Linked DNA regions of Homo sapiens: regions 1, 2, 4, 5, 6 and 7 are each linked to region 3. Evidence: fine-mapped expression QTL. A gene starts in region 3. Each other region holds a variant in brackets. All regions are shown on one strand. Distances are between the middles of the regions. Region 1 holds the start of LOC124909478 (a long non-coding RNA gene). Region 2 overlaps LOC124906253 (keratinocyte proline-rich protein-like). Region 3 holds the start of MUC20 (mucin 20, cell surface associated). Region 4 overlaps LOC124905352 (vegetative cell wall protein gp1-like). Region 5 holds the start of MIR570HG (MIR570 host gene). Region 6 has its middle 27 kb from the start of APOD. Region 7 has its middle 16 kb from the start of APOD.

Region 1 (4,105 bases), 310 kb before region 3:
ATGCACATATTCCTAGAAATACACGATATACCAGAAATGACTCATAAAGCAGTAGAACATCTGAATAGACTCTGAACTACTAAGGTTGAATCAGTAAGACCTGGCCTTTTCTTCACCAGATGGTTTCACTGGTGAATTCTTCTTCTTTTTTTTTTTTTTTTTTTTTTGAGACAGTCTCGCTCTGTCGCCCAGGCTGGAGTGCAGTGGCACGATCTCGGCTCACTGCAACCTCCCTCTGCCGGGTTCAAGCGATTCTCCTGCCTCACCCTCCCCAGTAGCTGGGATTACAGGCGCGCACCACCATACCCAGCTAATTTTTGTATTTTTAGTAGAGATGGGGTTTCACCGTGTTAGCCAGGCTGGTCTCGAACTCCTGACCTCGTGACCCACCCACCTCGGAATCCCAAAGTGCTGGGATTACAGGCGTGAGCCACTGTGCCCGTCCGCCATTATGAATATTGATGCAAAATGTTTAATACTAGCAAACCAAATTTAGCAGCTTATCAAAATAATTATATACCATGACTAAGTGAGGTTTAGTCTGTAAATGCAAGGATGGTTCAACATAGGAAAATCAACCAAGGTGATGCACCACATTAATAGAATGAAGGGGAAAACCCCAAATGATCATCTCAATTGATACAGAAAAAGTATTTGACAAAGTCCAACACACTTTCATGATAAAGCAGTCAATAAACTAGGAATGGAAGGGAATTCCTTCAAAATAATAAAGGTTATATCTGAAAAACCCACAGCTAATATCATATACAATGGTGAATTTCTTAAAACTTTACCCCAAACATCAGAAAGAAGATAAGGACTTCTATTCAACACAGTAGTAGCCGTTGTAGTCACAGCAACTCGGCCAAAAATAAATCGCATCTGAACTGGAAAGGAAGAAGTAAAATCACCTCTGTTCACAGAAGACACGCTCTTACATGTAGCAAATTCTAAAGAATCCACAATAAAATGGTTACATCTCACTCCAGAATTCAGAGACATGGCAAGATACAAAATCAACACACGAAAATCAGCTGCATTGTTATCCACTAGCAATGAACATTCCGAGAGGATATTAAGAAAACAATTCTGGCTGGGTGCAGTGGCTCAACGCCTGTAATCCCAGCACTTTGGGAGGCCAAGGTGGGTGGATCACCTGAGGTCAAGAGTTCGAGACCAGCCTGGCCAACATGGTGAAACCCCGTCTCTACTAAAAATACAAAAATCAGTCGGGTGTGGTGGCACGCAGCTGTAATCCCAGCTACTTGGGAGGCTGAGGCAGGAGAATCTTTTGAACCTGGGAGGCGGAGGTTGCAGTGAGATTGTGCCACTGCACTGCACTGCACTCCAGGCTGGGTGACAGAGTGAGATTCTGTCTCAAAAAAAAAAAAAAAAAAAAAGCATCAAAAAGAATTAAAAATACACAGGAATAAATTTAACGAAGGAGGCACAAGACTTAAACTTATGTATTGAAAACTATAAAACATTGCCAAAAGAATTAAAGAAGACATAAATAAATGGAAGGATATTCCATGTTGGGGATTGGGAGGCGTAGTTGTTAAGATGACAATACTGCCCAGCCTATCTACAGAGTTAATGCAAAATCCCTTTCAAAATCCCAGGGGTGTTTTTTGCAGAAATAGAAAAACCTAATTTGAAATTCAGGCCCCGCATGGTGGCTCAGGCCTGTAATCCCAGCACTTTGGAAGGCTGAAGCAGGCGGATCACCTGAGGCCAGGAGTTCGAGAACAGCCTGGCTAACATAGCGAAACCCCGTCTGTACCAAAAAATACAAAAATTATCCGGGTTGGGGGTTACGTGCGCCTGTAGTCCCAGCTACTCGGGAGACTGAGGTGGGAAAATCACCTAAGTCCGCGGAAGTCGAGGCTGCAGTGAGCCTTGATTGAGCCAATGCACTCCAGCCTGGGCGACAGAAAGAGACTCTGTCTCAAATAAATTTTTTTAAAAAAGTAAGTAAATAAATAAATAATTAAATTAAATTAATGTGGGATCTCTCCTATAGGCTCTGGGAAGCCTGTGGCTTGAGATGTGGCCCCGCAGAGGAATGCGCATGCGCTGAGTCACCCAACGATTTGGGTTGGCGGAAAAGTAATGGCGGTTTTTGCCCTTCCTTTTTTTTTTTTTCCTTGAGACGGCGTCTCGCTCTGTCGCCCAGACTGCAGTGCAGTGGTGCCATCTCGGCTCACTGCAAGCTCCGCCTCCCGGGTTCACGCCGTTCTCCTGCCTCAGCCTCCCAAGTAGCTGGGACTACAGGCGCC[C/T]GCCACCACGCCCGGCTAATTTTTGTATTTTTGGAACCTTTTGTATTTTAGAACCTTGAAAACGTTATGTTAAGTGAAATAAGTCAGACATAAAAGGACAAATACTGTATGATTCCAGTTATATGAGGTACCCAGATTAGGCAGATTCACAGGGATGGAAAGTAAAATAGAGGTTGCCAGGGGCTGGGGTACAGAGGAAACGGGAAGTTACTGCTTGATGGGCACAGAGTTTCTGTTTAGGATGAAGAGAAAGCTCTGGAAATAGTGGTGAGTTACACAACATTGTGAATGTACTTAGTGCCACTGAGTTGTATACTTAAAAGTGGCTAAAATAGTGTATTTTATGTTATGTGTGTTTTACCACAATAAAACATTCTAAAAAATAGGAATAAAGTACTACAACACGGGTGTACTTTGAACCCACTATGCTGAGTGAAAGAGGCCCTTCACCAAAGACCACATAGGTATGATTTGATTTCTGTGAAATGCCCGGAACAGGCACATCTACGCAGACAGAAAGTAGATGAATGATTGCCATGGGCTGGATGAGGAGGAAGCGGGGAGTGACAGCTAATGGGTATGGGGTTTCTTTTTGCAGTGACAGAATGTTCTAAAATTAGGTAGGGGTGCTGGTTATACAGCTCTGTGCATGTCTTAAAAACCACCGAATTGTACACTTTTAAAGAGTGAATTCACTTTTTAAGAGTGATTTTTTTAATTTAAAAAATGTTTTAAACTATTTTCTGCATCCAACCAACCATTACTTTGTTTAATTTTTTATTTATTTATTTTTTTTGAGAAGAAGTCTCGCTCTGTCTCCCAGGCTGGTGTGCAGTGGCACGATCTCGGCTCACTGCAAGCTCCGCCTCCAGGTTCAAGCGATTCTCCTGCCTCAGCCTCCCGAGTAGCTGGGACTACAGGCACGTGCCACCACGCCCGGCTAATTTTTGTATTTTTAGTAGAGACGGGTTTTCACTATGTTGGCCAGGCTGGTCTTGAACTCCTGACCTTGTGATCTGCCCGCCTTGGCCTCCCAAAGTGCTGGGATTACAGGCGTGAGCCACTGCACCCAGCCTTTGTTTAAATATTTTTAATTTAATGTCTTTAACAATTTTTTTTCGAGACAAGATCTCACTCTGTTGCCCAGGCTGGAGTGCAGTAGTGCAATCACCATTCACGGCAGCCTTCATCACCCAGGCTGAAGCGATCCTCCTGCCTCAGCATCCCAAGTAGCTGGGATTAGAGGTGCATGCCACCGTGTCTGGCTAATTTTTGTATTTTTTTGTAGAGACAGGGTTTCGCCATGTTGCCAGGCTGGTCTCCAATTCCTGGGCTCAAGCGATCCGCCCATCTTGGCCTTCCAAAGTGCTGAAATTACAGGCATGAGGCACCGTGCCCCGCCTTAAAGGATGATTTTTATTGTATGTAAATTATATATCAATAAAGTCATGAAAAATCAATCAGGGTAATTCACCATATTGACAGAATAAAGGAGAAAATGCATGATCATGCCATAGATGCAGAAATAGCATCTTGTGCAGATTTACACCGTTTCATTATAAAACTAGGGATAATAGGAAGCTTTCTCAAACTAATAAAATGGCACCTAATAAAACTTACAGCTAGCATCCAAAATTTATGATAAAAAACTGAATTGTTCATCTATAAAATCAAGAACAAGGAAACAATGGCCATTTTTACTACATTTTTTGTTTGTTTGTTTGTTTTGTTTTGTTTGAGACTGGTGTCTCCCTCTGTCCCCCAGGCTGGAGTGCAGTGGCACAATCACTGTAACTTCAACCTCCTGGGCTCAAGCAGTCCTCCCA
Region 2 (4,157 bases), 210 kb before region 3:
TTCCCTCTCCTTTCCCCAAGCAGGAGTCTTCTCCCCATGGCCGCTACCACCCCAGGCCCGTGGCAAGAACTGCTTGGTGACCGCTGATGTTTCTTCAAGCCCCAGGGGCTCTTTAGTCAGCAGGTGGCAAATGCAGCCAGGCTTGTGTCTTTCTTTTCAGGGCGGCAGATTCCCTTCCAGCCCAGAGCAGGTGCAGAAATGCCATCCAGGAACTAAGGCTGGGAATCTGGGACTTCAGGAATCTGCTTGCTGCTTTATTTACTATGGCTGAGCTGGTACCTCCAGTGCAAGACAAAGTCCTCTTTACTCTTCTCTCCCTTTTTCTCAAGGAGAAGGAGCCTCTTTCTGTGGCCATCACAGCTGGAGATGTGCTGGGTCACACTTAAAGCCAGTAAGGCTCTGAGTCTCCCCCAAGGCCTGTGGTGAGTGCTGCCTGCCTGGCTACTGCTGATATTTATTTAAGGCCCAAGGGCTATTTAGTCGGGAGGTGAAGAAGGCTGCCAGGACAGACCCTTTCCTTCCAGGCAGCAGGTTTCCTTTTGGCCCAGTATGTGCCTAGAAATGTTGTCCAGTAGCTGGGGCCTAGAACAGGGGAGCTTCAGGACTCTGCTTGGTGAGTTATTTTACTGTGGCTGAGCTGGTACCCAAGTGGCAAGACAAAGTCCTCTTTATCCTCCTCCCTCCTCTCATCCAGTAGAAGGAGGGAGTCTCTCCCAGTGCTGTGAGCTGCGCAGCCTGGGGGTGGGTGAGGGTTGACACAAGCACTCCCTGGGCTGCCCCCGCTGGTGTCTCACTAGGTCATGTGCACCCCAAGTCCACTGGCTCCAGGGTATTTCCAGGAATTGCAGTCCCTGTGGCCTAGGCTGCCTTTCAAGTTTATTTAGGATCCCAGAGCTCTTTAGCCAGCAGTGCGTGGCTTGCTAGAATTCAGGTTCACACCACTGAGATTGAGGATTTGTCTTTGCTAGGGCTGGTTTAAATGCTGTGTCTGTGAGTGCTGCCCTGTGTTGTTTTCCACTGTGACTGGGCAGCACCGAGTGGCAATGCAAAGTCCTATCATCACTGTGCTCTGCCTCTCCCAGCTCACGGATTCTCTCTCCCTGCCGTGCAAAGTCCCATCATCACTGTGCTCTACCTCCCCCAGCACACGGATTCTCTCTCCCTGCCATGCAAAGTCCCATCATCACTGTGCTCTACCTCCCCCAGCACACGGATTCTCTCTCCCTGCCATGCAAAGTCCCATCATCACTGTGCTCTGCCTCCCCCAGCACACGGATTCTCTCTCCGTGCCGTGCAAAGTCCCATCATCACTGTGCTCTACCTCCCCCAGCTCACGGATTCTCTCTCCATGCCGTGGGACTGCTGCCATGGGGTAGGAGATGGGTGATGTTAGCATTTCAAGATCGTCTTTCCTGTCCTCTTCAGTGCTTTTCTTGAGATGATATGAAAACCAGATACTGCAGTTGTTCATCTGATTTTCGGTTCTTATGCAGGTTTTTTCTCAACTTGAGAGTTTTCGGTTTAGTGGTCCTGGGCAGGGGTGGGGTGGGGGTGGGTGGGGCCGGGGGTTGGGTGGGGTGGGGGGTGATTGCTGGAGGGCCCTACTTGAGCATCTTGCTCCACTTTCCTCTCACCACCTTTTCAACATTGTTGGGAAAGCCCTAGCCAATGTGATAAGATTAGAAAAAGAAAGAAAAGCTATAATGATCAGAAACAGTTAGAATTGGACCAGGTGCCGTGGCTCACGCCTGTAATCCCAGCACTTTGGGAGGCCAAGGCGGGGGGATCATTGAAGTCAGGAGTTTGAGACTAGCCCGGCCAACACGGTGAAACCCCGTCTCTACTAAAATTACAAAAATTAGCCAGGCTTGGTGGTGGGCACCTGTAATCCCAGCTACTCAGGAGGCTGAGGCAGCAGAATCACTGGAAC[A/T]CAGGAGGCAGAGGTTGCAGTGAGCCAAGATTGTGCCACTGCACTCCAGCCTGGGTGACAAAGGGAGACTCTGTCTCAATAATTAATTAATTAATTAATTAAACGCAGCCATGAAAAAGAATGGGTTCATGTCCTTTGCAGGGACATGGGTGAAGCTGGAACCCATCATTCTCAGCAAACTAACACAGGAGCAGAAAACCAAACACTGCGTGTTCTCACTCCTAAGTGGGAGTTGAACAATATGGACACAAGGAGGGGAACATCACACACTGGGGCCTGTCGGGGGTTGGGGGCAAGGGGAAGGAGAGCATTAGGACAAATACCTCATGCATGCAGGGCTTAAAACCTCGATGATGGGTTGGTAGGTGCAGCAAACCACCATGGCACGTGTCTACCTATGTAACACACCTGCACGCTCTGCACATGTGTCCCAGAACTTAAAGTAAAATTTTTTTAAAAAAGAAATAAGTACAGTTATCTTTATTTGCAAAGTTTATGATTGCTCCTGTATAATAGCCCAAGAAATTTACAAAAACTTCTAGAATGAATAAATGAATTTGTCAGGGTCACGGGATACAAGATTGCTATATTAAAATGATTTGTATTCTTGGTTGGGAGCCGTGGCTCATGCCTGTAATCCCAGAACTTTGGGAGACAGAGGCAGGAAGAATGCCTGAGCTCACAAGTTTAAGACCAGCCTGAACAATGTGGCAAAGCCCTGTCTCTACAAAAAAATAAATAAATAAAATCATTTGTATTATGTAACGGCATCAAATAATTATTAAAAATTAATTTACAATAGTGCTAAAGAACATGGAATGCTTAGGAAAAAACTTAACAAAAGATGTTAAAATTTTTAATGCTGAAAACTACAAAATGTTGCTGAGAGAAATTAAAGATTTCAATTAATATACCACATTTCTGAATTGGCAAAAATATATCTCATGAATTGGAAGATTCAGTATGATTGTCTTAATCTGTTTGGGCTGCTACAGCAATATAGGTGGCTTAAACAGCAAACATTTATTTCTCATGTTCTGGAGGCTGGTAAGTGTAAGATTGAGGCAGCAGATTTGGTATCTGGTGAGGACTGGCTTTCCTGTTCATAGACAGCTGTCTTCTTATTGTGTCCTCACATGGCAGAGGGAGGGAGGCAGCTCTCTAAGGTCTCTGTTGTAAGGACACGAATCCCATTTATGTGGGATCTATCCTCATGGCCTTATCATCTCCCAAAGTCCCCTTGTCCAAATACCACCACACTGGGTATCAGGTTTCAACATGTAAATCTGGGAGGCGGGCAAAGACATTCAATCAATAGCAATTGTTAAGATGTCAAATTTTCCCAAATTGATCTATAGAGTTAACACAACTCCATACAAAATTCAAGGCTTTTTTACATAAATTGACAACGTGATACTAAGAGTTATATGGAAATATGGAGGGCCTAGAGAAGCTTTTATTTTTTGAGATGGAGTCTTGCTTTGTCGCCCAGGCTGGAGTGCAGTGGCGTGATCCCAGCTCACTGCAACCTGTGCCTCCTGGGTTCAAGGGATTCTCCCACCTCAGCCTCCCCAGTAGCTGGGATAACAGGTGCCTGCCACCACGCCTGGCTAATTTTTGTATTGTTAGTAGAAACAGGGTTTTGCCATGTTGGCCAGGCTGTTCTTGAACTCCTGACATCAGGTGATCCACCCACCTCAGCCTCCCAAAGTGCTGGGATTAAAGGCATGAGCCACTGCGCTTGGTTACAATTTTTTATTTTATTTTATTTTGTATTGTTTGTTTATTTATTTATTTTTGAGATGGAGTCTTTCTCTGTTGCCCAGGCTGGAGTGCAGTGACATAATCTCAGCTCACAGGAACCTCCGCCTCCCAGGTTCAAATGATTCTCCTGCCTCAGCCTCCCAAGTAGCTGGAATTACGGGCGTCTGACACCACACTCAGGTAATTTTTGTATGTTTAGTAGAGACGGGGTTTTGCCACATTGGCTAGGCTGGCCTTGAACTCCTGGCCTCAAGTGATCTGCCCGCCTGAACCTCCCAAAGTGCTGAGATTACAGGTGTGAGCCACCGTGCCCGGCCAGAAACAGTTGTGTTTTTTTTTTTTTTTTTTTTCTTTTTTAAAGAAGAACAATTCTTTCTCAGCCTTTCGGCAAAGATTAAGTGTAGTCTATATTATTAGTTTAGTATTTGATATGTCCTCTATCTGAGGACAATATATTAAATGG
Region 3 (4,157 bases):
ATGTAACTGGATGCCCTGTGTTTTATCTGGTAATCCCAGTCTTGGAAGGAAAAGGATCAAATACGAACCCCCTAATTCTCTGAGCCTTCTTGGTCCAGCCTACACAGCTGGAAGCCCAAAGGTGGCGCTCTTGGAGTCTGACCTCCCCTGGCACAGGGTTTGAGATGGTCTTTACCCAGCTCCACTGGCCCAAAAGTAGCCCATAGACCCAAAAGGGGCCTAGCACCTCTCCCCAGGGCATCAGGATGGGGCCCCAGGTCCCCAACTGGTTGTCCTGTGGACCTCAGGGAATGACGACGCAGGAGTCAAGAGCCTCGGTTGCAGCTCCCGCTGTGCCGCCCACGACTGGCTCCGGGGTCAGATGATCTGCTGGTTCAAATCCTGACTCAGCCTCCTACTAGCCAGGCCAGTCTCTAGACCCCTCCCAGCCTCCATGTCCTCACCTGAGAAAACAGGGTCACAATACCTGCCTTGCCAACGTGATGAGGACCAGCGGAGAAGGTGAAAGGGCTTATATTCCAAAGCCCACAAGGTAAGCATCCCTCCCTATGGAGTCCTCTCCCAGGCCACTGGAAAGCACGCATAGTTGATCTGACTATAGTGAGGAGTGCGGGCTGCACCCCCAGGCAGTATAGGCGAGTCCCGGGCACCCACTCTCATCCCTGGTCCAGTGCGGCCCAGCTGCACACACAAATCTCACTTTTGCAGGAACTGTTCGTCTGCCTTCATAATACAGTTTCTTCTCCCCACTTCAAGCCTGAGATCATTTCTTTGAGCCTTCTTGGTCCAGCCCACACAGCTGGAAGCCCAGAGTGGTGCCCTTGGAGCCCGACTTCCCCTGGCACATTTTCTGGCTTATCCAGGAGCCCCGGGGTGTCCTTTCTGCTGTGAAACCTCCTCATGCTCCCCAAGCCCACAGCCTCTCGGGTCCAAGGGGGTCTTCTCGAATACAGCAAATCCCAGCCCAGCCCCTCAGTAGCTCTGGAACACTGCGGCTCTCCTGGTACAATCTTCAAATCTGGTGGAGAGGAAAGCGTGTGGACTTGGGACCCTGAGTTGGAGAATCTGCTCTCTGCCCTGTGACCCTGGCCAAGTCTCTCAGCTCCAAGCCTGCATTTCCGCACCTGTAAGGTGGAGCTAACGGGACACGTGCAGCGCAGACCAGGCCACGGTGAGCACAGGCAGGAGGCCACGGGGTGCAGTGCTCAGGCCTGTGAGGAGTCAGATTCTGGCTCCGAGGAGTTGTTACTGGATGCCCAGAAGCACAGTGGCCTCACCCTTAAAGCAGTGGAGGTGGGGGGTGGTAAAAACAGGGCCGATCTTGCAGGGCCGTTGTGAGGATTAAAAATACAATGTATGATAATGATGCATCAAAGTAGGTTCCTCAGTCCTATCAAATGTGCCACTCTGGTGGGGGACGCTGATGATGGGGGAGGCTGTGAGTGGTGGGGATGGGAACTCCAGACTCTCCACTGCAGCTTTTTTTTTTTTGAAACATAGTTTCACTTTTGTTGCCCAGGCCAGAGCGCAAGGGTGCGATCTCAGCTCACTGCAAACTCCACCTCCCAGGTTCAAGCAATTCTCCTGCCTCAGCCTCCCGAGTAGCTGGGATTACAGGCACCTGCTACCACCCCCGGCTAATTTTGTATTTTTAGTAGAGACGGGGTTTCTCCATGTTGGTCAGGCTGGTCTCGAACTCCTGACCTCAGGTGATCCACCCACCTCAGCCTCCCAAAATGCTGGGATTACAGGTGTGAGCCACCACGCCCGGCCTCTCCACTCGAGGTTTAGAGGGAGCATAGAACTAAAAAAAAAATAAATCCTTTTCTATTTTTTAATGTATGTGATGAGTTTGGCACAACTCCTATTAGCGACAGGTCAGGGTTCATTCCCGTCTTTCACAAAAGCCCTGCCTGTCAGCATCCACCCTTCCCAAGCAGTTTGTGGCAGTTGGACTTTTCACACGAAATCTGTATTTTGAAGGAAATCCATGCTAGGTAATAAACTGGGAGGAGTCAGAATCTTGTTAAGCCACATTCTTCAGCTTTCTGCACAATGATCACCAGCTGGCACCTCCCTGCACCCCCGCTCCGTGCCCCACTTACTGTCCCACGTTCATAAAGACAAACTCTCAGCCATCCCTTACGATGGCAGCGTCATGGTTGATTAGCGTGTACTGCAGCGCCAGGCACGCTTACACTCACACACATCGTCATGGTTGATTAGTGTGTACTGCAGCGCCATGCACGCTTACACTCACACTGTCATTTGCACACTCTTTATCAACAATAATAGCACTTCACAAGTAGCACTGTGGTTCATTATAATCAACCCGAGAGAGCCTGCCCTTGCCCATGAAGGGTGGCTCATACTGAAATTCACTCCCAGAGCCCTACTAGGGGAGAGGCCCACCAGGCCCTTCTAGGCCTCCTTACCTGCAGAGCTCCCAGAGACCCCAACCTCCCAGCAGAAGAAGAAAAGGGGCAGAGCCAGACCCCAGAGACAGCCCATCCTAGCCGGCCACCGCTGCTCCACAGAACTGCTGGCTGTCTCTCGCGGGTACCTTTTCCTGCTTCCTCAAACCAGGGAGGAGGGGCAGCCTCCTGCCCAGGTGTGTGACCAGGTGATCACAAATGTGCAGGCTGAGGGCTGGCAGGTTGAGGCTGTCAGCAAGCTGACCCCCCTGCCTTCCTTGCCCGGTAAACACTCCACTGAAATTTGATTTGAAGATATGGAATCACTAGCTTCTTTTTTTTTTTTTGAGATGGAGTCTTGCTCTGTCACCCAGGCTGGAGTGTACAGTAATGAGATCTCAGCTCAATGAAACCTCTTCCTCCCGGGATCCAACAATTCTCCTGCCTCAGCCTCTGGAGTAGCTGGGATTATAGGCGCGCACCACCACGTCGGGCTAATTTTTGTATTTTTAGTAGAGATGGGGTTTCACCATGTTGGCCAGGCTAGTCTCAAACTCCTGACCTCAGGTGATCTACCTACCTCAGCCTCCCAAAGTGCTGGGAGTACAGGCATGAGCCACTGCACCCAGCCAAGTGCTTTTATTTTCTTAAGCCAATTAATTAGAGCTCTTTTATATATTTTCAGTAGCAAAACACTGTGTACACAACAACACATAAATACACAGATGTATTAGGTATGCTGAAAGAAGTTCATCTTATAGATTCATAAAGAGCTTTTTTCTTACACCTTCAAATTCTTTTTTACTTTTTTTTTTTTTTTTTTTGAGACAGAGTCTCACTCTGTTGCCCAGGCTGGAGTGCAATGGCTTGATCTCGACTCACTGCAAACTCTGCCTCCTGGCTTCAAGTGATTCTCCTGCCTCAGCTTCCTGAGTAGCTGGGATTATAGGCACCTGCCACCACATCTGGCTAATTTTTTTTGTATTTTTAGTAGAGACGGGGTTTCAACATGTTGGCCAAGATGGTTTTGAACTCCTGACCTCAAGAGATCTTTGCGGCTCAGCCTCCCAAATGCTAGGATTACAGACGTGAGCCACCGTGCCCAGCCACACCTTCGAATTCTTGATAACCTGTTTTACTACTCTAAGCGGTTGTCAGCTAAATAGCCTTGAATTTGCATTTTAAGGAAACTGAGGTGAAAATCGAATAGCAAAATTTACATCATAACGTATGGAGAGAAAAAGTCTGGTGTGCTGGAGGGAAATTAAAACAGATTTAATTGCCAATTAAACATAAAATTATAGAAATTATAAAGGCCTTTTAAATATATACACACACACAAAGATCCTATAGCTTTTACTTCAGAAATTTAGCCATGAAAGCTGGGCGCGGTGACTCACGCCTGTAATCCCAGCACCTTGGGAGGCCGAGGCGGGCAGATCACCTGAGGTCAGGAGTTGGAGACCAGCCTGACGAACATGGAGAAACCCCATCTCTACTAAAAATACAAAAAATTAGCCAGGCATGGTGGTGCATGCCTGTAATCCCAGCTACTCGGGAGGCTGAGGCAAGAGAATCACTTGAACCAGGGAAGAGGAGACTGTGGTGACCCAAGATCACGCCATTGCACTCCAGCCTGGGCAACAAGAGTGAAACTCTGCCTCAAAAAAAAAAAAAGAAAAAAAAAAAAGAGAAAGAAAAGAAAAAAAGAAATTTAGCCATGAAATAAATACAAATTCACCA
Region 4 (4,157 bases), 97 kb before region 3:
GCAGAGCTCACCAGACCCCTCTTCTGTCCCCTGGCCAGCTTCAGCTGGTGCCTCCTCTCCCCAGGGAGCAAGGGGAACAAGGAACAAGTCTCACTTTCCAGCCTGATGGGCTAATCTCACTGCCTTCTTTCTCTGTTCAAATTTTGTCTGGATCACTTTCTTCAGGACAGTCGCTGGGCTAAGCATAGTGTCCAGTATCAAAATGAGAAGCCTGGCAGTTGGTCCTGGATCATAGCTGGGAGCTCACCCAGGAAAGAGCTGGGATGGGAAGGGGTTCTCCACCTTTTCCCCACCCACCTGCAGAGTCTTTAATCCACCCATCATTTTTAGGCTTCCGGAGTAATTATTCTATTTATTTTATTTTATTATTTCAAGACGGAGTTTCGCTCTTGTTGCCCAGGCTGGAGTGCAGTGGTGTGATCTCAGCTCACTGCAACCTCCGCCTCCCAGGTTCAAGTGATTCTCCTCCCTCAGCCTCCCAGGTAGCTGGGACTACAGGTGCACACCACCAACATTTCTACTAAGTTTGTATTTTTAGTAGAGATGGGGTTTCTCCATGTTTGTCAGGCTGGTCTTGAACTCCCGACCTCAGGTGATCTGCCCGCCTCGGCCTCCCAAAGTGCTGGGATTACAGGCGTGAGCCACAGCGCCCGGCCCCATTGTCAGCTCTGCTTCCGCCATTAGACCATCAACATTAAAAGGGTTAATTGATCACAAGTGTCCAAAAAAGTGCCGACATCCTGGACAGAGCAAGCTCATGTTTATGGACTTCTGACTGTAGAAGGAGGGTCAGAGCCGCCGATCAGAACACACCAGCTCTGCTTCCAGGTTCAGGAAATGATCCTGAACACAGAAGGCACTTTGGGTACAAAGCCTCTGATCCGGGCATTACCTGTAACAGGGACGCCGTGAATAACCCAGTGTCCAAGTTAGTTCAGTTATGGTGGCAGCCAATGCAGTATCACGTGGCCTTCAGAAATGTGTGAATGGAGTTTTATAATAATTGGGGAGACTTTTAGGTTTAAAGCTAGGTCATGGCCCGGCGCAGTGGCTCACGCCTGTAATCCCAGCACTTTGGGAGGCTGAGGCGGGCGGATCACAAGGTCAGGAGTTTGGGACCAGCCTGACCAACATGGTGAAACCCCGTCTCTACTGAAAATACAAAAATTAGCCAGGCATGGGGGCACGAGCCTATAATCCCAGCTACTCGGGAGGCTGAGGCAGGAGAATGGCGTGAACCCAGGAGGCGGAGGTTGCAGTGAGCCAAGATCGCACCACTGCACTCCAGCCTGGGTGACAGAGCGAGACTCTGTCTCAAAATAAATAAATAAATAATAAAAATGAATAAATAAATAAATAAATAAAGTTAGGTGGTAAAGAGGAGATCAAACTATATCTAGGATATGATAGATTTAAACTATGGATATGAGCTATGTATGAGAAACAAGCCAGAAATCTCTCAACGCGTTAATAGGGTTGTTCCTGGGTGGTGAAACATTGATGATGTTTTTCTTCTCTCTACTTTTAAATATTTTCATATCTCTGTGGACAGTGTGCATTACTTTATAATGAAAAAAGAAACCCAGTAAACTTCATTTTAAAAGATGGCTTTCGGCCCGGGTTGGGCTTTCTGTCAGAACCCCGCGTTGGAGAGCTTTGTGGGCCCACCCTCATTCAGTCCCCATGGTGGCCGCATGTACGTGTCCCCTGTGGCAGACGTTCCGCCTGGGAGCAGCGGTCTAACTGGGAGCCAGGAGTGTGCAAAGACAACCGAACAGACGTGGACGCTCGGCAGCAAGACAGAGAGGGCGCTGGAAACCCGGGCTCCGGGACACACCCTGCC[G/A]CTCACCGGCTGCGCCAACAAGGACCTCCCTTCTCTCTGGGCCCACACCTCCTCCACGGTAGAATGAGGGCTTCGGATGACATGGTCACCAGGGTCTCTTCCAGTTTTAAAATTATGTTAAGATCCTCTTATTCTTTCAAGCTTTACAAAGGGAAGCCCCACAAAAGGACACAGGTGGCAAATCCGGGGACCTGGATGCTGGGTCACCGACTTCATGTTCTTGCTGACTTCCTGGCCTCGGTTTTCTTCTCCTTAAGGCTGGGTGAATGGAATGAGTTTAGATCCCTGGACCTCCAGGCCCTCCTGTGCCCCGGGGTGGCCCTGCTTCACAGGGATGCCCGTAAGAAGACGTTGCATGCGTAAAAATCATGCCCTGCTCCACCACAGAGGTGAGATGAGACAGGAAATGAGCTAATTGGCGTGAGAATGCTTGGCACTTTTAGGGAAAGGAGAAACCGAATCCCAAGAGAATGACAGTGGCCTTTGTGTGACCCTAGTACCAGGGCCCCTGCTTTCGCCATGGCCTCAGATAGAGGCCACATACAGCAGGTGCTGGGCCCCCAGCCCACCCACCTCCCTGCTTTCACCATGGCCTCGGATAGAGACCACATACAGCAGGTGCCGGGGCCTCCAGCCCGCCCGCCTCCCTGCTGAACCATGGAATAAGGAGCTGCAGAGGAGGAAAGATTTTGGAGTCGTGCTGACCTGGGTCTGAATCCCAGCTCGGAGGGCCTGCTGCCACATCTGTACGTGGGCATCCTCTTTTACGTGAGTGTCTCGGGTCGGGTCCTCCCAGAAGCAAATGCTGAGTTGGTGGAAGGAATGTGAAGGCTATAGGGGAGTGGCACCTGCTTAAGGAGAAGGAGGCCGGGCTGGGCAGGAGGATGTGGCACCTGGTAAGGAGAAGGAGGCCGGGCCGGGCAGGAGGATGTGGCACCTGTGTAAGGAGAACGAGGCCGGGCCGGGCAGGAGGATGTGGCACCTGGTAAGAAGAAGGAGGCTGGGCCGGGCAGGAGGATGTGGCACCTGGTAAGGAGAAGGAGGCCGGGCTGGGCAGGAGGATGTGGCACCTTGTAAGGAGAAGGAGGCCGGGCCGGGCAGGAGGAAGTGGCATCTGTGTAAGGAGAAGGAGGCCAGGCCGGGCAGGAGGATGTGGCACCTGCGTAAGGAGAAGGAGGCCGGGCTGGGCAGGAGGATGTGGCACCTGGTAAGGAGAAGGAGGCCGGGCTGGGCAGGAGGATGTGGTACCTGGTAAGGAGAAGGAGGCCGGGCAGGAGGATGTGGCACCTGCATAAGGAGAAGGAGGCCGGGCCGGGCAGGAGGATGTGGCACCTGGTAAGGAGAAGGAGGCCGGGCAGGAGGATGTGGCACCCGGTAAGGAGAAGGAGGCCGGGCCGGGCAGAAGGATGTGGCACCTGGTAAGGAGAAGGAGGCCGGGCCGGGCAGGAGGATGTGGCATCTGTGTAAGGAGAAGGAGGCCGGGCCGGGCAGGAGGATGTGGCACCTGCGTAAGGAGAAGGAGGCCGGGCTGGGCAGGAGGATGTGGCACCTGGTAAGGAGAAGGAGGCCGGGCTGGGCAGGAGGATGTGGCACCTGGTAAGGAGAAGGAGGCCGGGCAGGAGGATGTGGCACCTGCGTAAGGAGAAGGAGGCCGGGCCGGGCAGGAGGATGTGGCACCTGGTAAGGAGAAGGGCGGAGGCCAGGCTGAGCAGGAGGATGTGGCACCTGGTAAGGAGAAGGGCGGAGGCCAGGCTGGGCAGGAGGATGTGGCACCTCGTAAGGAGAAGGGCGGAGGCCAGGCTGGGCAGGAGGATGTGGCACCTCGTAAGGAGAAGGGCGGAGGCCAGGCTGGGCAGGAGGATGTGGCACCTGGTAAGGAGAACGGCGGAGGCCAGGCTGAGCAGGAGGATGTGGCACCTTGTAAGGAGAAGGGCGGAGGCCAGGCTGAGCAGGAGGATGTGGCACCTGGTAAGGAGAAGGGCGGAGGCCAGGCTGGGCGGAGGATGTGGCACCTGGTAAGGAGAAGGAGGCCGGGCCGGGCAGGAGGATGTGGCATCTGCGTAAGGAGAAGGGCGGAGGCCGGGCTGAGCAGGAGGATGTGGCACCTGTGTAAGGAAAAGGAGGCCGGGCTGGGCAGGAGGATGTGGCACCTGTGTAAGGAGAAGGAGGCCGGGCTGGGCAGGAGGATGTGGCACCTGCGTAAGGAGAAGGAGGCCGGGCTGGGCAGGAGGATGTGGCACCTGCGTAAGGAGAAGGAGGCCGGGCTGGGCAGGAGGATGTGGCACCTGCGTAAGGAGAAGGAGGCCGGGCTGGG
Region 5 (4,110 bases), 32 kb after region 3:
TCCCTGGACATGTTAGAAATGCAAATTCTCAGACCGAACCAGGACTGAATCGGAAGATCTGGGGTAGGGTCCCTCCAGGACTGAAAACGGAAGGTCTGGGGTGGGGTACCCCAGGACTGAATCGGAAGGTCTGGGGTGGGGTCCCCCCAGGACTGAATCGGAAGGTCTGGACGAGGGTCCCCCCAGGACTGAATCAGAAGATCTGGGGTAGGGTCTCCCCAGGACTGAATCGGAAGGTCTGGGGTGGGGTCCCCCCAGGACTGAATTGGAAGGTCTGGACTAGGGCCCCCCCAGGACCGAATCGGAAGGTCTGGACTAGGGTCCCCCCAGGACTGAATTGGAAGGTCTGGGGTAGCGTCCCTCCAGCTGATCCTGTTACACAGGTTAGAGAACCATGGCATTAGGGGTAGCAATTTGACAATTCTTTTTTTTTTTTTTTGAGACAGAGTCTCACTCTTGTTGCCCAGGCTGGAGTGCAGTGGCGCACTCTCGGCTCACTGCAACCTCCGTCTCCCAGGTTCAAGCAACTCTCCTGCCTCAGCCTCCTGAGTAGCTGGGATTACAGGCACCCATCATCATGCCTGGCTAATTTTTTGTATTTTTAGAGATGGGGTTTCACTATGTTGGCCAGGCTGGGACAATTCTTAAACTGTCATTCTTTACTCACTTACTTGCAGGAATTCTTATGTAAAGAACTTTCCCTAATCAACAAGGTTTCCCTGAATTGCAATTTGTAGAGAAAAGACAGGATAATTACTGATCTTCCTTCAAGTGTCCATTCCCAGTGTTAGGAGTTAGTGCCCTAGGTACCTCCAAGAGTGACCAATTACATGTGTTTGTTTGGTTTTGGCTTTGAAACCACCACTATGAATTCATGGTTTTCATGTATTAGAGACCACTTTCTAGGTGCTTGATGTGTCTACTGCTACTGGGGCAGAGGTAGAAAATGTGTCTACGGTAAAAGAACAACAAATGAGTTCACGCTTATATTTCTATTTCAAATTTAGTATACGGTTTTACACCTTTTTCTCAGAAAAATCTTGTTTTATTTTTTGAGATAGAGTTTTGTTCCTGTTGCCCAGGCTGGAGTGCAGTGGCACAATCTCGGCTCACTGCAATCTCTGCCTCCTGTTTCAAGCGATTCTCCTGCTTCAGCCTCCCCAATAGCTGGGATTACAGGCACCTGCCACCATGCCCAGCTAATTTTTCAATTTTAGTAGAGATGGCGTTTCACCATGTTGGCCAGGCTGGTCTCAAACTCCTGACCTCAGGTCATCTGCCCACCTCGGCCTCCCAAAGTGCTGGGACTTGGGAGGATTTTCCCTTGCCAGAAAAATCTTAGTTTTAGCATTAACATAATTAGTTATTTGCTTTAACTCCCACCCCACATAATTTCAAAGGATTAATACCTATAAGACGAGTAACGGAGATGATTGATTGAAATTTAGGATTCAGTGGCTCTATTTGTCTTTAGACTATGGCTCACTAAATCTGCACACTTGAAGTGCTGTGTTCTAGCGATCCTCTGATGACACATGAAGTAATAGGCTGCGTGACTGTCACCAGCCTGATGTGCAGTTGGGCTGCAGAACCCCGTGATGCTGCCTAGCCCAGCCAGCCCCAGGTCACTCCTCAGACTCAAACTCGATTCTGACACCACCAGCACCCGGGACGCTGCCTAGGGGCTTTCTCTGGTGGCAGCAGCATGTCCTGGAGCAGGCCAGGGGTGCCCGGAATTGACCATCCTGAACCTGTGCAGCGTGGGCTGGTGAAGGAACGCACCAGCTCCCACAGTGAACACGGGCCCAGCTGTCCACATGAGACCCGGCTCCCGGACGCCCCATGCTGCCGCCTCTTTCCTGTCTCACCTCCCACTTCCCTTCAGCTGCTGCTCAGGGCCACCTTCCAAATTTTTGTCTCAGGGTTGGCGCCTGTAGAATGCAATCCAAGGAATTTAGATTCATTCATTTCAGATACCATTCTTTCAATTTTAGGGACTATCTTAAAAACTTAGTTTGGTAATATGTAAAACACTTACAATTTCAAAGTCCAGATATTACTTCAGAGTCTATTTCGGTCTCACTTCCACCACTGACCC[CTG/G]TCCTCCACAGCAACCACTTTAGATTTTTATCTTTGTACTGTTTTAAGAAAAAGCAAATATATATTTGCATTATATTATATGTACTCTGCCCCTTATCAATAGGCGTTCCTCATTCCTCCTTCTGGTACGGAGTTCCCCACTGCACGAATTAATGTTCCTAATCCCTTACTGATGGACATTTTGATTGTTTCCAGTTTTACAAATGCCACAGTGAAGAACTTTGTGGCAAACACATTCAGGCTGTGAAAAGAACTCTGTGGATAAAGTCCTTTCATTTCTTTGCCAGAGTTTTTTTTGAGGCAGATTCTAGAATTGCTGAGTCTAAGGGCAAATGCCATGTCGTTTTGTTAGATGCTGCCAAATCCTCTTCCATGAGGCTGCAACGTTCTGCATTCCACAGTGACGTATGAGAGTCCTTGTACCCCACAGCTTCATAAACAAAGCATGACAGCAAACCTGCACGTTTACCCATCACACAGTTGAGAAATTTTATCTACTTTCACCTTTTTTTTTGGTTAGCATTTTTATTCCCAGCTTTTTTGTGGTATAATGCGCAGAAGGTAATGAACACATTCTACCTGCAAGCTTCTTCCTGTGCCTTTGGAATCTGCTCCTGCCAGTCTGCAGGGAACCACGGATCTGCTTTCCGTCACGTAGGAGGCATTCTCGACACCCTCTGTACACAGCATGCGCTTTATTTGGCTTCTCTTACGCAGCGTAGTGACTTTCAGATTTATTCAAGCTGCTGCGTGCGCCAACAGTCCACTCCTTCCTAGTGCTGAGGCCCCCATCACATGAGCACAACTGTTTCTTGTGTGTGATGTGTTGTCCTCTGGCTGTGCACTGCCAAAAAAGACATCATTAAAAAAAATTTAAATATAATGTAAGACCTGCCTTGTCTTAGGAAACGTTTTTCTGGCAGTGGCTCACACCTATAATCCCAATACTCTGGGAGGCTGAGGCAGGAGGACTGCTTGAGCCCAGGAGTTTGGGACCAGCCTGGGCAAGAGGGTGAAACCCTGTCTCTAAAAATTAGCCAGGCATGGTGGCTCACACCTGTAGTCTCAGCTCTTAGGGAGGCTGAGGTGGGAGGACTGCTGGAGCCCAGGAGGTGGAGGCTGCAGTGAGCCGAGATCACACCACTGCACTCCAGCCTGGGCAGCATGGCAAGACTCTGTCTCGACCAAGAAAAAAACAAAAAATTAACAGAAGGAAAAACAAAACGGCTTTCTTATCAAAAATACACTTTAAGAACAAATTTATAATATTAAGTTGCTGCAAAAGTAATTGTGCCTTTTACCATTGAAAGCAATGGCAAATACTGCAATTACTTTTGCTCCAACCTAATATTATTTTCTAATGACAAACTTGGAAATAACTGTCATTGCTCTCTAAAAAGAACAGCCTAAAAATAAAGCAGCAGCCCATTTACTTCTATGCCAGTTCTTTTAGCATTTGGTTATTTAAACCGGCAGTCCCTAACCTTTTTGGCACCAGGGACTGGTTTCACGGAAGACACTTTTTCCACTGACAAGTGTGGGGATGGTTTGGAGATGAAACGGTTCCATCTCAGATCATCAGTATTAGATTCTCATAAGCGGGGCATAACCTAGATCCTTCTCATGCGCAGTTCACAACAGGATTCCACTCCTATGAGAATCTAATGCCACCACTGATCTGACAGGAGGCGGAGCTCACACAGCAATGATATGACAGGGGCGGAGCTCACAATAATGATATGACAGGGGGCGGAGCTCACACAGTAATGATATGACAGGGGGCGGAGCTCACACAGTAATGACAGGGGGCGGAGCTCACACAGTAATGATGACAGCGGGCGGAGCTCACACAGTAATGCTCTGGCAGGGGGCGGAGCTCACACAGTAATGCTCTGGCAGGGGGCGGAGCTCACACAGTAATGATGACAGGGGGCGGAGCTCACACAGTAATGATGACAGGGGGCAGAGCTCACAGTAATGCTCTGGCAGGGGGCGGAGCTCACACAGTAA
Region 6 (4,157 bases), 110 kb after region 3:
TCCAGAAATTTACTCTTAACACTGACCAAGAAGCTGTGTGAACATACAAGTTATCTGCCCTCTCTGGGCCTCCGTCAACATGATCTACAGGGTCCTTTTGGCCCCATGGTCTGGGGTTCTGCGTTGGGCGTGACATTGTCTTCCAGAAATTTACTCTGCTCTGGGCTGTGCTGCTGGGAAGAAGGAGGGAATGGGAGGGAATAGGAGGAGGAAGACTCCCCAGAAGAGGCTGAGGGGGGTCCATAGGGGACAAAACCCAGCACTTGGGGTGGGGATCTTGGACACCATTGATCTGTAGGCTGAGCCCCTTCCATCCTCCACTCAGCCCCAGCTCTTTGCTTATCAAATGAGACAAGGACTCCCCCCAGGAGGAGTCAGGTAGGGAGAGGAGGGCAGGGCCACAGCAAGGACTGTATTCTCTTAGACCCCATCTAGTAGCTGCGACCCACTGTGAGGCTTAGCCCAAGGGAAGATGGAGAAGAGACTAAGCACCAATGCAGCTCCTCTCAGCCACCCCAGCCCTCCTCCAGCCCCGCCCCCGCAGGGATAGGGGCTTCCTCATTCCAGCAGCAAGTGAGTCCACCCCAGCCTGTTGCAGATGAGGAAGTGAGGAATCCCTGGAAAGGAAGCCTGGCTGAGAGCTTCCCTGGGTTTGCTGAATTTTGGACCATTTTCCTCGGTATTTGGGAAATTTACAAGCCTGGGCAGATGACTGTTAGCCCTGGGGGCCATAAGAGTCTTATGCAGAAAGTTCCTGGGCCATATTTTAGCCAAACTCAGCTCTCACCTTGAATGAGCGTAGGAGGCTAGTTCATTAATTTAATGCACGTACGGAATTCCTTCTACATGCCAGACATTGCTCCAGGCACTTGGAATACATCACTCAGTAAAAGAGATCCCGGCCTTCACGGAACAACTCTCCTAGTGAAGAGAGACAGCAAACTGTGAACCCCGAATATCTCAGACAGGTCTCAGTTCATTTAGAGAGTTTATTTTGCGAAGTTTGAGGACTCGCGTCCATGACACAGCCTCAGAAGGTCCTGGTGACATGTGCCGAGGTGGTCAGAGCATAGTTTGGTTTTACACGTTTGAGGGAGACATGAGACATCAATCAACATATGTAAGACGAACATTGGTTCAGTCTGGTAAGGTGGGACAACTCAAGCAGGGAGGGGGCTTCCAGGTCACAGGTGGGTGAGAGACAAATGGTTGCATTCTTTTGAGTTTCTGATAAGCCTCTCCAAAGGAGGCAATTAGATATGCATCTATCTCAGTAAGCAGAGGGGTGACTTTGAATAGAACGGGAGACAGGTTTGCCCTAAGCCGTTCCCAGCTTGACTTTTCTCTTTAGCTTCATGATTTTGGGGGGCCCAAGACAGTTTCCTTTCACATTTCCCCCTTTTCTTTTTAAAAATCTTTTGGAGAAAGCATTTTAGAAGAAAATGAGTCTCTGGTCTGAGGTTTCATCGGGTCTCTCATGGCTAGGATGGTTTATTCCTAGATAGGTAGGTCCC[A/T]ATAGCTACCCTAGATAGGTAGCTCATTATTAGCAGGTTGAGAATCCTCATGTCCTGTGAAGAGAAAATAGGGGGAGGAAGGGAGAAAAACAACAAACAAAATAACGATCCTAGAAAATCGATATAGGCCACATTACTCTGAAGTCCATACGTCAGTAGGCAGGTATGAAAGTAGCTTATATATGTAAATAGGCTGCTGTTATTTTCTTCTGAAGTTTAAGTTGTCTAGCTTCAGTTCACAGGGCTTCAAAAAGCACAGCTTAGCTTTCAGTAACTCCAAATTAGGAAAAATGGGAAAAAAGAAAGGGAAAAAATGGAAAACATTATTTTGAAGACTTGTAGCCAAGAAAAATTAGAATTTGGTCCAAACTGCAGAAAATAATAAAAATGGAAAAACATTAGGCAAGACTAGAATCTAACAACAGGTGTACTATAGTTCTTAAAACATAGTTTTTCTCTCTCCAGTTTCTCATTTTTACTAAAGACAAATCATGGTAGGACTGATTTCCTTTATTATTCTTGGCCTGATTATTTGTATACAGTGCAGCTAGAATAATTATTTTTTTACACAGGCTTTTAAATTGGCTTTGATGAAACTTTGTTCCATAGAAGGAATCTCAGAAAAGACTTGTTTAAAGCTGAGCCCTGCCATGGATTTGTACCATCAAATACCTATGAGTTGCATGAATTCCTCTCCTTTTGAGGGTCCAAGGTAAAACTTGGGGCTCCTGGGCCTGTCGGAAAGTGACATTCTTTACTTACCACAGGGCAGGAACCCTGTTCAGCGACTGTGTAGACAGAGCATGTGGCTTTTACTGGCTCCATAAAACAAGTTTAATTCCTTAAAGGAAAGCACATCATTCTAGTCAAAGTGCTGGTAAAATAACCAGTTTCTCCAATTGTGTCCTGTTACAAATAAAGACAGATTATTATTGCACTTATGCAAATAACTATATTGTGATAAGGATACTCACAAACAGTTGCCAAATTCTGGAGAAATCAGGTAGAGAGAAATGAATATGCTCCAAATTTTGTTCATAGGAGTACAATAACTTGTTAAAAGCTGTCAATAGCTCAAAAGAAAAGTTTCCTTGACTCTGAAAAAACAAAACAAAAGATCAACAACGTTTTAAGCAAAAAGTCAAAAAGATTACTTCAGTCCATGCAGTTAATTCCTGTTCTGCTTGATATTCATGAACATTTCAGCTCTCCATGAGTCCCGAAAGTTTTTCCTCTATTCTAATGTCACAATCTCCAAAGTTAGCAGAAACCTGCATTCAAGAGCACCTTTTAGAGTTTTATAGCTGATTATAAAACCACCTTCTTTTTTTTTTTTTTGAGACAGAGTCTCACTCTGTTGCACAGGCTGGAGTGCAGTGGTATGATCTCAGTGCACTGCAACCTCTGCCACCTGGGTTCAAATGATTCTCCTGCCTCAGCCTACCAAGTAGCTGGGATTACAGGTATGTGCCACCATACCACACCATTATGTATATTGCTTGTGTACAATGCCCACTGTCTGGCTGATGGGATCACTCATACCACAAACCTCAGCATCACGCAATATACCCATATAGCAAGCCTGCACATATACCACCTGAATCTAAAATAAAAGTTAAAGATATTTTTTAAAAAATTATATAAATAAATAAATAAAATTGCTAAAAGAGTGGTAGATGCCTGTAATCCCAGCTACTCAGGAGGCTGAGGCAAGAGAATCACTTGAACCCAGCAAGTAGTGGTGAGCCAAGATCACGCCATTGCGCTCCAGCCTGGGCAACAGAGTAAGACGCCACCTCAAAAAAAAAGAAAAAAGAAAAGAAAAAGAAAAGAGTAGATGTTAAATGTTCTCACAACAACAAAAAATGATAAGTACGTAAGATTCTTAACCACAGTTGATGTACCTCACAGGAAGAGCTTCTCTTTCAAGATGTGTAACTGCCCCATGGGTTCTTCCTGCCCACTGCACAAAAAAAATCAGTTCATGGAGACCATGGCATTGCGGTAAAGAAAGAGGTTAATTGATATGATGCCAGCCACATCATGTGGGAGGCAGAGTTATTACTCAAATCAAACTCATCTAAGTCTTGGAGGTTAGGGATTTTTCAAAGGTAATTTGGTAGGTAGTGGGCTAGGGTATGGGGAGTGCTGATTGGGTCAGAGATGAAATCATAGGGCGTCAAAGCTGTCCTCTTTCTCTGAGTTGCTTCTGGGTGGGGAAACAGAAGCCACTAGCTGGTCCCGGTGGAGCCATCGGTCATCAGACATGCAAAAAATCCTGAGAAGATATCTCAGAAGGCCAATCCTAGGTTCTACAAAAGTAACATTATCTGCAGGGGTAACTGAGGAAGTTGCATATCTTGTGGCTTCTGGAATAATGCCTCACAGTTGTTTATGTCTACACCTTAGCAGAATTTAGGTTCATCTCCTCCTCCTAGCCTGGTGGTCTCTCAGTGTTACAAGGCTGGTTGAGTTTGAGGGAAGGGTTACTATCATTTAAACTATAAACTAAATGACTCCCACATGTAGCTTGGCTTAAACCCAGGAATAATTAAAAGCAGCTTGAAGGCTAAAGGCAAGAGGGAGGTTGGCCAGGTCAGATCTCTTTCACTGCCATTTTTTTCTCACTGTGATAATTTTTGC
Region 7 (4,157 bases), 120 kb after region 3:
ATCTTCCATAACCACTATGATAATTAATTTTATGTGTGAACTTGTATCAGAGGTGTTTAAACCAGAGCGACTCCATCTAGAATAAGCGCTGAGTAAAACAAGGCTGAGACCTACTGGGCTGCATTCCCAGGAGGTTAAGCATTCTAAGTCACATCATGAGATAGGAGGTCAGCACAGATACAGGTCACAAAGACCTTGCTGATAAAACAGATTGTGGTAAAGAAGCCGACAAAACCAAGATGGCTACAAATATGACCTCTGGTCATCCTCACTGCTCATTGTATGCTAATTACAATGCATTAGCATGCTAAAAGACACTCCCACAGGCACCATGACAGTTTACAAATGCCATGGCAATGTCAGGAAGTTACCCTATATGGTCTAAAAAGGAGAGAAACCCTCAGTTCTGGGAATTGCCCACCCCTTTCCCAGAAAACTCGTGAATAATCCACCCCTTGTTTAGCATATAATCAAGAAATAATCATAAAAATAGCCAACCAGCAGGCCTTGGGGCCACTCTGTCTATGGGATAGCCATTCTTTATGCCTTTACTTTCTTAGTAAGGTTGCTTTTACTTTACTCTATGGATTCACCTTGAATTCTTTCTTGCATGAGATCCAAGAGCCCTTTCTTGGGGTCTGGATCGGGACCCCTTTCCAGTAACACTTGGGCTAGGAAATGCCCAGATTGCTGCTAAGAATTTATTTCTGGGCGTGTCTGTGAGGGTGTTTCTGGAAAAGATTTGCATTTGAATCATTTGATTGAGTAAAGAAAATCACCCTTACCAATGTAGACAGGCATCACCCAATCCATGGAGGGCCCAAAGGAGCAAAAGGGTGGAGGAAGGATGAATTCTGCCTCTCCTCTTGAGCTGGGATGCCCATCTTCCCCTGCCCTTCAACATCAGAGCTCCTGGTTCTTGGGCCTTTAGGCCTGGAATGAATTACAGCACTGGTTTTCCTGGTTCTCCATCGTGTCCTTTTGAGTTTTGGTCACAGCATCACCAGAAGATGAGGACATTCACCTCTGATCTCCTCCTTTCTAGTTTTTTTTTTTGTTTTGTTTTGTTTTGTTTTTTTTGATACAGAGTCTCACTCTGTTACCCAGGCTGGAGTGCAGTGGTGGGATCTCAGCTTGCTGCAACTTCCGCCTCCTGGGTTCAAGTGATTCTCCTGCCTCGGCCTCCCAAGTAGCTGGGATTACAGGCATGGACCACTACACCCAGCTAATTTTGCATTTTTAGTAGAGACAGGGTTTCACCATGTTGGCCAGGCTGGTCTCAAACTCCTGACCTCAGGTGATCCACCCGCCTCGGCCTCCCAAAGTGTTGGAATTACAGGCGTGAGCCACCGTGCTCAGGCTGATCTCCTCCTTTCTATGCACCTGTATTAGTAACTGGTGGTTCTGCCTGAGGGACAGATGGATCCAAGGGTTCCGTGATAGATCCATGGTTCCTCTGTTTTGCTTTATTCTCAAAAAGGCTCTTACCTGAAATGTGGTCCCTGGAAGTTCTGGGTGGACAAGGTCCTTCATGGTAGTGACTGAAGGAAGAAAAAGAGAGTATTCCCTGAAAGATTCAGCAAACATCTGAGGGAAGATTGACCACTCTGGATGCAGGGTCCTGCCTGAGGGATTGCTCTAAGGGTCCAGGCTGGGTAATGCACCTGCCCCCTGCAGTGGTGGTAGAGGATAAAGCCAGCCAGTCTCATCCAACCATATGGACTGGGCAGATTACTATAAAATAGAGAATGTAAATCTTCCCAAAGGAAGGGAATGTGGAATCAACAAGAGGCAAGGTCGCTCCCTCTCTCTCTCCCTCTTCCTCTCCCTCTCCCTCTTCCTCTCCCTCTCCCCAAGGTCTCCCTCTCCCTCTCCCTCTCCCTCTCCCTCTCTTTCCACGGTCTCCCTCTAATGCCAAGCCGAAGCTGGACTGTACTGCTGCCATCTCGGCTCACTGCAACCTCCCTGCCTGATTCTCCCGCCTCAGCTTGCCGAGTGACTGCGATTGCAGGCGCGCGCCGCCACGCCTGAGTGGTTTTCGTATTTTTTTGGTGGAGA[C/T]GGGGTTTCGCTGTGTTAGCCGGGCTGGACTCCAGCTCCTAACCACGAGTGATCTGCCAGCCTCGGCCTCCCGAGGTGCCGGGATTGCAGATGGAGTCTCGCTCAGTCAGTGCTCAATGTTGCCCAGGCTGAAGTGCAGTGGCGTGATCTCGGCTCGCTACAACCTCCACCTCCCAGCCGCCTGCCTTGGCCTCCTAAAGTGCCGAGACTGCAGCCTCTGCCCGGCCGCCACCCCGTCTGGGAAGTGAGGAGCGTCTCTGCCTGGATGCCCATTGTCTGGGATGTGAGGAGCCCCTCTGCCCGGCTGCCCAGTCTGGGAAGTGAGGAGCGCCTCTTCCCGGCCGCCCATCGTCTGAGATGTGGGGAGCGCCTCTGCCCCGCCGCCCCATCTGGGATGTGAGGAGCGCCTCTGCCCGGCCACGACCCCGTCTGGGAGGTGAGGAGCGTCTCTGCCCAGCCGCCCCATCTGAGAAGTGAGGAGCCCCTCCGCCCGGCAGCCGCCCCGTCTGGGAAGTGAGGAGCGTCTCCGCCCGGCAGCCGCCCCGTCCGGGAGGGAGGTGGGGGGCGCCTCCGCCCGGCTGCCCTGTCTGGGAAGTGAGGAGCCCCTCTGCCAGGCCGCCACCCCGTCTGGGAGGTGTACCTAACAGCTCACTGAGAACAGGCCATGATGATGATGGCGGTTTTGTGGAATAGAAAAGGGGGAAATGTGGTGAAAAGATAGAGAAATCAGACTGTTGCTGTGTCTGTGTAGAAAGAGGTAGACATAGGAGACTCCATTTTGTTCTGTACTAAGAAAGATTCTTCTGCCTTGGGATGCTGTTGATCTATGACCTTGCCCCCAACCCTGTGCTCTCTGAAACATGTGCTGTGTCCACTCAGGGTTAAATGGATTAAGGTCGGTGCAAGATGTGCTTTGTTAAACAGATGCTTGAAGGCAGCATGCTCGTTAAGAGTCATCACCACTCCCTAATCTCAAGTACCCAGGGACACAAACACTGCGGAAGGCCGCAGGGTCCTCTGTCTAGGAAAACCAGAGACCTTTGTTCACTTGTTTATCTGCTGACCTTCCCTCCATTATTGTCCTATGACCCTGCCAAATCCCCCTCTGCGAGAAACACCCAAGAATGATCAATAAAAAACAAACAAACAAACAAACAAACAAAAAAGATTATGATCCCACTATTTGCAAAAAAATAAAATAAAATAAAATAAAAATACAAAATTAAAAAAAAAAAAAGAGGCAAGGTCACTTTTGTCCCCAAGTTATAACTCTGGTCTTCCTCTGCTTCTCCTCTTTTCTCAGGACTCTTTCTTATCTCATCCCCAAGTTCAGCTTGTTCAGCCCTGCAAGGGCTGATGGGTGGGGGTCAGGTGTGGGGCAGGATCACTGCCCTCCTCCATTATTTTCACCCAGGCAAAAATGGGTGAAATGAGCCTCAAGGGCCGTGTCAGAGAGAGGTGTGAGGGGTGGAGACAGAGGGAGAGTCAGGAATGGACCCTCACTGCACTAGAAGCATGTGGAGGAGAGAGGACCAGCCTCCTTCTGAGGGAAGAATAATAGGAGCACTGTATGTGTGTGCCTGAGTTCCAGGTCTGGTTGGTACTGCATGAGAGAGTCATCTCGTTTTCCCACAAAAATAGCTTCAAAATCATCCAGACCCTTCTTTCTTCCCTCTTGATATTGGTCTCAGACCTGTCACTAAAATCCTAAGGCTGGCTCTGATCCCACCATGAGAAGCTTTCAGAAAAGGGTGCTTTTCTCCCGGAGCTCAAGGGCTTCAGCTCTTGGCTAATCAGTACCACACCCCCAAACACACACACACACACACACACACACACACACACACACACACACACAGAGAGTAATTAGTTATGGAATTTGGTGGAAGAATCAATCAGACCATTTGGATCATGGAATAAACTATTCTATGGACGCATGGAATGTTCCATGGAATAATGTCCTAGTTATTTTGTGCTATAGGGAGACAGACATTTATATCCAACAAATGTCCTCTAGATTGAGTGTTGAACAATCTTGTATGGATAAGACTGAGAACAACACACGGAGGAAATTCTTCTGGTTTCAAGACAAACTCCAC

The links. PIP is the estimated chance that this variant, and not a neighbour inherited with it, causes the effect.
Region 1: its variant is fine-mapped to the expression of MUC20 in whole blood (TOPMed, PIP above 0.99).
Region 2: its variant is fine-mapped to the expression of MUC20 in whole blood (TOPMed, PIP above 0.99).
Region 4: its variant is fine-mapped to the expression of MUC20 in whole blood (TOPMed, PIP above 0.99).
Region 5: its variant is fine-mapped to the expression of MUC20 in whole blood (INTERVAL, PIP above 0.99).
Region 6: its variant is fine-mapped to the expression of MUC20 in blood mononuclear cells (TOPMed, PIP above 0.99).
Region 7: its variant is fine-mapped to the expression of MUC20 in whole blood (TOPMed, PIP above 0.99).

What each region holds. Positions count from the first base shown.
Region 1 is chr3:196,033,716-196,037,820 of GRCh38, reverse strand. It overlaps LOC124909478 (a long non-coding RNA gene), which reads left to right and starts at 2,368. Exons shown (of 5, transcript XR_007096234.1): 1 at 2,368-2,546. The variant C/T (reference allele first, on the strand shown) is at 2,280.
Region 2 is chr3:195,928,681-195,932,837 of GRCh38, reverse strand. All of the region lies in intron 3 of LOC124906253 (keratinocyte proline-rich protein-like), which reads left to right. It also overlaps the pseudogene RNU2-11P. Among named protein-coding and RNA genes, the nearest start is that of TNK2, 22 kb to the right of the region's middle. RefSeq lists an enhancer at 4,019-4,157. The variant A/T (reference allele first, on the strand shown) is at 1,931.
Region 3 is chr3:195,719,362-195,723,518 of GRCh38, reverse strand. It overlaps MUC20 (mucin 20, cell surface associated), which reads right to left and starts at 2,541. Exons shown (of 4, transcript NM_001282506.2): 1 at 2,436-2,541. The coding sequence starts at 2,511.
Region 4 is chr3:195,816,121-195,820,277 of GRCh38, reverse strand. LOC124905352 (vegetative cell wall protein gp1-like) reads right to left here. Exons shown (of 3, transcript XM_047449429.1): 1 at 2,737-4,157; 2 at 2,549-2,648; 3 at 1,502-2,101. The coding sequence ends at 1,980. Among named protein-coding and RNA genes, the nearest start is that of MUC4, 6.3 kb to the right of the region's middle. RefSeq lists an enhancer at 3,043-3,848. The variant G/A (reference allele first, on the strand shown) is at 1,844.
Region 5 is chr3:195,687,367-195,691,476 of GRCh38, reverse strand. It overlaps MIR570HG (MIR570 host gene), which reads right to left and starts at 2,979. Exons shown (of 5, transcript NR_122105.1): 1 at 2,680-2,979; 2 at 2,039-2,138. It also overlaps the pseudogene SDHAP2. The variant CTG/G (reference allele first, on the strand shown) is at 2,099.
Region 6 is chr3:195,608,821-195,612,977 of GRCh38, reverse strand. No RefSeq gene overlaps it. Among named protein-coding and RNA genes, the nearest start is that of APOD, 27 kb to the right of the region's middle. The variant A/T (reference allele first, on the strand shown) is at 1,515.
Region 7 is chr3:195,598,194-195,602,350 of GRCh38, reverse strand. No RefSeq gene overlaps it. Among named protein-coding and RNA genes, the nearest start is that of APOD, 16 kb to the right of the region's middle. RefSeq lists an enhancer at 1,451-1,620. The variant C/T (reference allele first, on the strand shown) is at 2,059.